Linked DNA regions of Homo sapiens. The protein of the gene in region 2 purifies or fractionates together with the protein of the main gene of each other region. This does not show direct contact. Each region holds a gene or a part of one and is shown on either strand. Other genes may lie near its edges.

Region 1 (3,810 bases), on a different chromosome or scaffold from region 2:
AGCCTGGGCAACAGAACGAGACTCTGTCTCAAAAAAAAAAAAAAAAAAAGAGGACCTTCAGACCCCAATGGGAATGACGAAGCCATGGTGGTCAAGGTTGGAAGGGCCCTCGGAGGTTCGTGAGTCCCAGGTTTCTCATTGCGTGTGTATCAGGTGCTCTGTGTTTACATGCATGGGGGCTTGGCAGCAGACTACATCAATCACAAAGTCAGAAAAGGACTCTTCTTCACTCCTTCAATAACTTGAAGAAGAAAATCTCGGCCAGGCGCGGTGGCTCACACCTGTAATCCCAGCACTTTGGGAAGCCGAGGCAGACAGATCACAAGGTCAGGAGTTCGAGACCAGACTGACCAACATGGTGAAACCCTGTCTCTACTAAAGATACAAAAATTAGCTGGGCATGGTGGTGGGCACCTGTAATCCCAGGTACTCAGGAGGCTGAGGCAGGAGAATTGCTTGAACCCAGGAGACGGAGGTTGCAGTGAGCTGAGATTGAGCCACTGAACTCTAGCCTGGCGACAGAGAGAGACTCCGTCTCAAATGAAAAAAAAAGAAAGAAAAAAAAGGATTCTTCTTCACTCCTTCAATAACTTGAAGAAGAAAATCTTGAGACCAGGTGCAGTGTCTCACACCTGTAATCCCTGCAGTTACAGAGGTTGAGGTGGGAGGATCACCTGAGCCCAGGAATTTGAGACCAGCCCTGGCAACATAGTGAGATCCCATCTTTACAAGAAAATTAGCTGGCCATGGTGGCATGTGCCTGTAGTCCCTGCTACTCAGGAGGCCAAGGTGGGAAGATCATTTGAGCCTGGGAGGTCGAGGCTACAGTGAGCCATGTACTATAGGTTGGACCACTGCACTCCAGCCTGTGCTACAGAGCAAGACCCTATCTCCAAAAAAAAAAAAAAAAAAAAAAAAGAGAGAGAGAAAGAAAATCTCTAGATGATGCTGGTGTATTCTTAACATCTCTCTAACATCTGCTAATCTCCCTTTTTGACAAAGAGACAGCAGGATGCAAGCTCAGAGCCTTCCATAGAAAACACTCTCGAGGCCAGGCGCGGTGGCTCACGCCTGTAATCCCAACACTTTGGGAGGCTGAGGCGGGTGGATCACCTGAGGTCAGGAGTTTAAGACCAGCCTGGCCAATATGGCGAAACCCCGTTTCTACTAAAAATACAAAAATTAGCTGGGCATGGTGGCAGGCACCTGTAATCCCAATACTTGGGAGGCTGAGGCGGGAGGATCGCTTGAACCTAGGAGGCAGAGATTGCAGTGAGCTGAGATCACACCATTGCCATTGCACTCTAGCCCAGGCGACAGAGTGAGACTCTGTCTCAAAAAAAAGAAAAAGAAAAAGAAAACACTCTCAAGTTAGGGTGTAACGACATTTCTGTTTTGTTTTTTCTTTTTCTACCTTTCTTCTCTTTTTTGTTTTGTTTTGTTTTGTTTTTTGAGACAGTTTCATTCTGTTGCCCAGGCTGGAGTGCAATGGCGCGATCTCGGCTCACCACAATCTCCGCCTCCCAGGTTCAAGTGATTCTCCTGCCTCAGCCTCCCAAGTAGCTGGGATTACAGGCATGCACCACCATGCCCAGCTAATTTTCACCATGTTGGCCAGGCTGGTTTCAAACTCCCGACCTCGGGTGATCCACCCACCTCGGCCTCCCAAAGTGCTGGGATTACAGGCGTGAGCCACCGTGCCCAGCCTCTACCTTTCTTCTTAACCTCTTCTTCTTAACAGGAAGTAATTCTAGTTTTCTACTTGTGTTGATGATGTGAAGTTTTGTTTCAATAGAAGGGGAAAAAGATGTTGATTTAAAGAATAACAAAGTAAGTAACAGATTAGATAAGGCTATGGTAACAATCGTATCATATAAGCAGGAGGAAAGTGACTGAAGATTGTGAAACATTCACATGGTTCAACCACTTCCCTGCAATGTGGGAAAACCGAGGCTCTCGACAGGAGGAAGTCCAGCATCTGGGTTCAACTGCGAGTTAGCGGACACCACAGGCCCAGTCCTTCACCCATGCCCCCATCACAAACCACCCCAACCACGTGGAAAACTGGCCCACCTGGTATCTTGCTCCATGGGCCTCCTCAGGGTGGAAGCAGTTTTGACAGCGGTTCTGGGTAAGTATGTTGGCCTCAAAGTGTTCACACAGGGCATCCCCAGGCACCTCCTCCATATTGGGTGAGTCAGGCCAGGGCAGTTCCTATGATCCAATGGCTGACCGTCTATGTGAGGCCTGGCAAAAATGAGGGGGAGGCAAAGACCAGATGACTGGCTGGCCACTCACCTGAACCCCAGCCCCAGTTGCCCCAGTTTCCAGACAAGGACCAAGGAAATAAGGTTACTCATCCATTCCTTTGGGTTCCTGTTCTCCATCCATTCCTGTTCATTTATTCACTCAACAAACACTCACTAAGCACCTACTAAGCACCAGGCACTCTGCCAGCATTTGATGTGCGATTTCTAGTCCTTACTGCAGTGTTGCTGAAAGTGCACGCCAAGGACTCTGCATTACACCCTCCTGGGCTGTTCATAAAAATGCAGATACCAGGCCAGGCACAGTGGCTGATGCCTGTAATCCCAGCACTTTGGGAGGCCGAGGTGGGCCGATCACTTGAGGTCAGGAGTTCGAGACCAGCCTGGCCAATATGGTAAAACCCTGTCTCTACTAAAAATACAAAAATCAGCCAAGTGTGATGGCACGTGCCTGTAATCCCAGCTACTTGGGAGCCTGAGGCAGGAGAATGGCTTGAACCCAGGAGGCGGAGGTTGCAGTGAGCCAAGATTGCGCCATTGCACTCCAGCCTGGGCGACAGAGTGAGACTTCATCTCAAAACAAAAAACAAAAAAATGCAGATTCCAGCTGGGCCCATTGCGGGCGGCGGATCATTTGAGCCCAAGAGTTCAAGACCATCCTGGGCAACTGGCGAAACTCCGTCTCTACAAAAAATACAAAAATTAGCTGGGCAAGGTGGTGCAGGCCTGTGGTCCCTGCTACTCAGGAGGCTGAAGTTGGGAGGATCACCTGAGTCTGGGAGGTCGAGGCTGCAGTGAGCCATGACTGTGCCACTGCACTGAGAAAAAAAAAAAGCAGATTTCAGCTGGGTAAGATGGTGTGCACCTGCAGTCCAAGCTACTCGGGAGGCAGAGGTGGGAGGATCTCTTGAGCCCAGGAGTTTGAGGTGGTAGTGTGCTATAACTGCACCTGTGAATAGTTACAGCACTCCAGCCTAGGCAACATAGCAAGACCACATCTCAAAAAAAAAAAAAAAAAATCTAGATTCCCCTTTCTCTCTCCCAATTCACACAGTTAGAATCTCCAAGAGACTGAGGTCTGGGGCTGTGCATGTTAAAGAAGTGATTCCAGCCGAGGGCGGTGGCTCACGCCTGTAATCCCAGCACTTTGGGAGGCTGAGGCAGGCAGATCACTTGAGGCCAGGAGTTCAAGACCAGCCTGGCCAACATGGTGAAACCCCGCCTCTACTAAATACAAAAATTAGCTGGGCGTGGTAGCACGCACCTGTAGTCCCAGCTACTTGGGAGGCTGAGGCACGAGAATCGCTTGAACCTGGGAGGCAGAGGTAGCAGTGAGCGGAGAGCACGCCACTTCACTCCAGACTGAGCAACAGAGCGAGACTCCATCTCAAAATAAATAAATAAATAAATAAATAAATGAAAATGAAAATAAAGAAGCGATTCCTGGCCAGGCGCAGTGGCTCACGCCTATAATCCCAGCACTTTGGGAGGCCGAGGCGGGCAGATCACCTGAGGTCAGGAGTTCGAGACCAGCCTGGCCAAT
Region 2 (3,810 bases):
CAGGCCCTGAATCACGGGCACCCACTCCACTGCTGGTCCCCATCACCGAGACACAATTGTGGGCCCCAATTTCAAGAAGCAACATTGGCTTCAGGGATGTGGACCCCACACCGAGGAATCTGGTCCCTGGGTTCGTCTCCCGATAAAACCTGGTAACGTGGAAAGCAGACAGGCTAGGGCAGATGCAGAGGTACCCGGCTGGCTACAGAAGTCGGGTGGAATCTAGGCAGGTGCGGTGGCTCCTGTCTGTCATTCCAGCACTTTGGGAGGCCGAGACAGGGAGATCACCTGAGTTCAGGAGTTTGAGACCAGCCTGGCCAACATGGCAAAACCTGGTCTCTACTAAAAATACAAAAATTAGCGGGGTGTGGTGGCACGTGCCTGTAATCCCAGCTACTCAGGAGACTGAGGCAGGAGAACTGCTTGAACCCGGAAGGTGGGGGTTGCAGTAAGCCAAGATGGCGCCACTGCACTCCAGCCTGGGTGAGGGAGGCAGACTCCATCTCCAAAAAAAAAAAAAAAAAAAAAAAGGCCAGGCACAGTGGCTCCCGCCTGTAATCCCAGCACTTTGAGAGGCTGAGATGGGCAAACCACATGGTCAGGAGATCCATCGAGACAATCCTGGCTAACACGGTGAAACCCCCTCTCTCCTAAAAACACAAAAAATTAGCTGGACGTGGTGGCGCGTGCCTGTAATCCCAGCTACTTGGGAGGCTGAGGCAGGAGAATCACTTGAACTCGGGAGGCGGAGGTTGCAGTGAGCCGAGATCGCACCACTGCACTCCAGCCTGGGTGACAGAGTGAGACTCCGTCTCAAAACAAACAAAAACAAACAAACAAAAAAAGTCGGGGTGGAGTCTGCTTGTGCCGGCTCGCATCCCTTTCATAAGGGACACTGAGCGGCGCTCTGGGACACCTGAGCTCAGGACGGTGAAGGCGGAGTGAGCTGGACGCGGGGCGGCGCGGAGGAAACTGCACCTGTCGCCGGCATTTGTTCCGTGGGAGAACGCAGGATCCCTCCCAGCTACCTCACCACTTGTCCCATCAGCAGGGTCCCCGGGGCCCAACTCCAGCCGGGGCCGCCAGCTGCTGGGCCGACCGCAAGCAGTCAGGGTCCTGGCCCCGGAAGGGTTCCTCTGCCACGGGCCACCAGCCCCACCGTAACCGCACGCCCTCAGCCCCAAGCCCGCGCACCAGTGGCTCCAGCTCCTTGGTGTCGATGAGGCCGAACTCCTTGACGAAATAGTAGAAGTGCTTGTAGCAGGTGTTCACGTGGGCCTCGGAGCCCATCTGCGCGATGCGGTCAAAGTGGTGGATGTAGACGTGCACGAACACGCGGAACAGCCGCGACAGGATCTTCCGCACCGTCTGCAGGAAGTTCTTGGGAAACGGAGTGCCTGCAGGGAGAGGGGTGGGACGGGTCCACGGACTCAGCCAAGTCCATGTCCAGAACCCTTTGCTCCTGGATGTGACAAGGGGCTTCCAGACAGAAATTGCTGGCAGATCGGGCGCGGTGGCTGACGCCTGTAATCCCAGCACTTTGGGAGGCCGAGGCAGGCAGATCACTTGAGGTCTGGAGTTCGAGACCAGCCTGGCCAACATGGAGAAACCCCATCTTTACTAAAAAATACAAATATTAGCCGGGTGTGGTGGCTCATGCCTGTAATCCCAGCTACTCAGGAGGCTGAGGCAGAAGAATCGCTTGAACCTGGGAGGTAGAGGTTGAAGTGAGCCGAGATCGTGCCACTGCACTCCAGCCTGGGTGACAGAGTGAGACACTGTCTCAAAAAAAAAAAGAAAAAGAAAAGAAAAGAAAGGTACGCTGTACTCTGGAGGGACGTGCCCTAATGATCATCCTCAAACCCACGTTTATGGGGTGTCCCTGAGAGCCATGCAGTGCATTACACATCGAGCTGGGCAGGGGGTCCCGCCAACGGGGTGATGATCCTGGTGGGCCCAGGGGCTCCATGGCAGTGATTCTGAAACCACTGAGAACACTGGGCCCAGCACTGGCAGGGGTGCTTGTCTCCTCTGCGAAGGACTCCAGGCCTGATGCTGATCCTGTCATTCTCTGCTTTGGGGTGAGGAGACAGGAGTCACCAGGAGTGATTCAGGATGAAGGGGGGCTACTAAGAGCAGCCCAACTTAGGAGAATACTCAGAAATGGAATCCTTTTTTTTTTTTTGAGACAGGGTCTTGCTCTGTCACCCAGGCTGGAGTACAGTGGCACGATCATAGTTTACTGCAGCCTCAACCTCCTAGCCTCAAGCGATCCTCCCACCTTAGCCTCCCGAGTAGCTGCGACCAAAGGCGTGTGCCACCATGCCTGGCTAATTTTTAAAATTTTTTGTAGAGATGGGATCTTGCTATGTTGCCCAGGCTGAGCTCAAACTCCTGGGCTCAAGCGATCCCTGGGCTCGGCCTCCCAAAGCGCTGGCATTACGGGTGTGAGCCACTGTGCTCGGCCTCCCTGACTTTTCTGGAAGGCTCTGTATCCCCGAGCCCCTGCCAGCTCTGACTCACCAACGTTGGTGGGGAAGAGGTCCTCGTTGTTGATCTGCGCCTCGATCCAGTCCATCAGCAGGTCCATGTACCTGGGCGCGGAGAGTGCCGTGGGCTTCCGGAACTTATGCTCATCCTGCCAGCGGTACTCATACTTGGGGCCCCCCGACATGACGGGGCAGGACTGCTCCGTGCAGCCGTCGCTGATGGTGCCGTAGATGAGGTTGACGCGGTTAAAGAAGTCCACCACGTGAACAGCCACCCAGTCGTTCAGGTCCTCGCCCGGGGGCAACTGCACGGCCAGCCGCAGGTCCAGCCCGGCGTTCAGCGACGCCTGCGCCTTCTTGTGCAGCTCGAAGCGCTGGGTGCCTGGCTCAAACTTGCGCTTGGGGCGGAATGTCTTGTCCTTGTTGAAGACTTGCTTCAGGAAGGGGTTGGACATCTTGGTGACGCCTGCTCTCCTGGACTTCTGTAGAGGGGTCCTGGGCCAGCTGGCTGGGGGTGCTGACCAACCCGAGAGGCCACGAAACACTCACCAAGCCCCACAGCTCTCCCGCGGACCTGAAATACACAGGGGAATCATGACCTGCTGGAGGCGACAGAATTTCCCGGAAACTCGTGCTGAGGGCACAAGCGGCAGGATTTTGTTTTGTTTTTTGAGACAGGGTCTTACTCTGTTGCCCCGGCTGGAGTACAGTGGTGCCATCACAGCTCACTGCAACCTCTGCCTCCCAGGCCCAAGCGATCCTCTCAACTTAGCCTCCTGAATAGCTGGGACTATAGGCACACACCACCACACCTGGGTAAGTTTCTTTATTTTTAGTAGAAACGAGGTCTCACTATGTTGCCCAGGATGGTCTCCAACTCCTGGGCTCACATGATCCTCTCACCTCTGCCTCCCAAAGTGCTGGGCTTACAGGTGTGAGCCACTAGTGGCAGGGTTCAAAACATCCCCTGGACTTTTGACTTTAAGGAGTTTCACCCAAAGGGGGCCACCTCCTCAGTGGACAGAAGAGAACTGCGCGTGGCGAGGCCTGACCGATTCACAGCAGAAGGTGCGCAGAGCCGGGCCCCAAGAGCCCGCAGGGGCCGCATCTTCCCCGGTGCCGATGCCTGGCCCGGACCTAGACTTGCTGCTACCCAGCACTGTGGGGCTTGAGTGTGGGGCAGGCTGAGATGCCAGTCACAGGGGACTGCATGGCCGGACTACGGCCTCCACAAAGGAAGCCACACCGCAATGCCCGCAGCCTGTGCATGGCAGCCTAGGTGGAAGAAGGTCTCAAGGGACGTCATCTTGGATTCCTTGGG

Evidence for each region.
Region 1: the proteins of MOB3A (region 2) and TRIOBP fractionate together in Homo sapiens (co-fractionation; one large-scale study listed by BioGRID). This does not show direct contact.

What each region holds. Positions count from the first base shown.
Region 1 is NC_000022.11:37,699,743-37,703,552, reverse strand, and holds part of TRIOBP (TRIO and F-actin-binding protein), read right to left. Parts: intron 2,248-3,810; 5' UTR 2,188-2,247; coding exon 2,074-2,187; intron 1-2,073.
Region 2 is NC_000019.10:2,075,617-2,079,426, forward strand, and holds part of MOB3A (MOB kinase activator 3A), read right to left. Parts: intron 3,064-3,810; 5' UTR 2,945-3,063; coding exon 2,524-2,944; intron 1,398-2,523; coding exon 1,195-1,397; intron 1-1,194. UniProt on the Homo sapiens protein: May regulate the activity of kinases.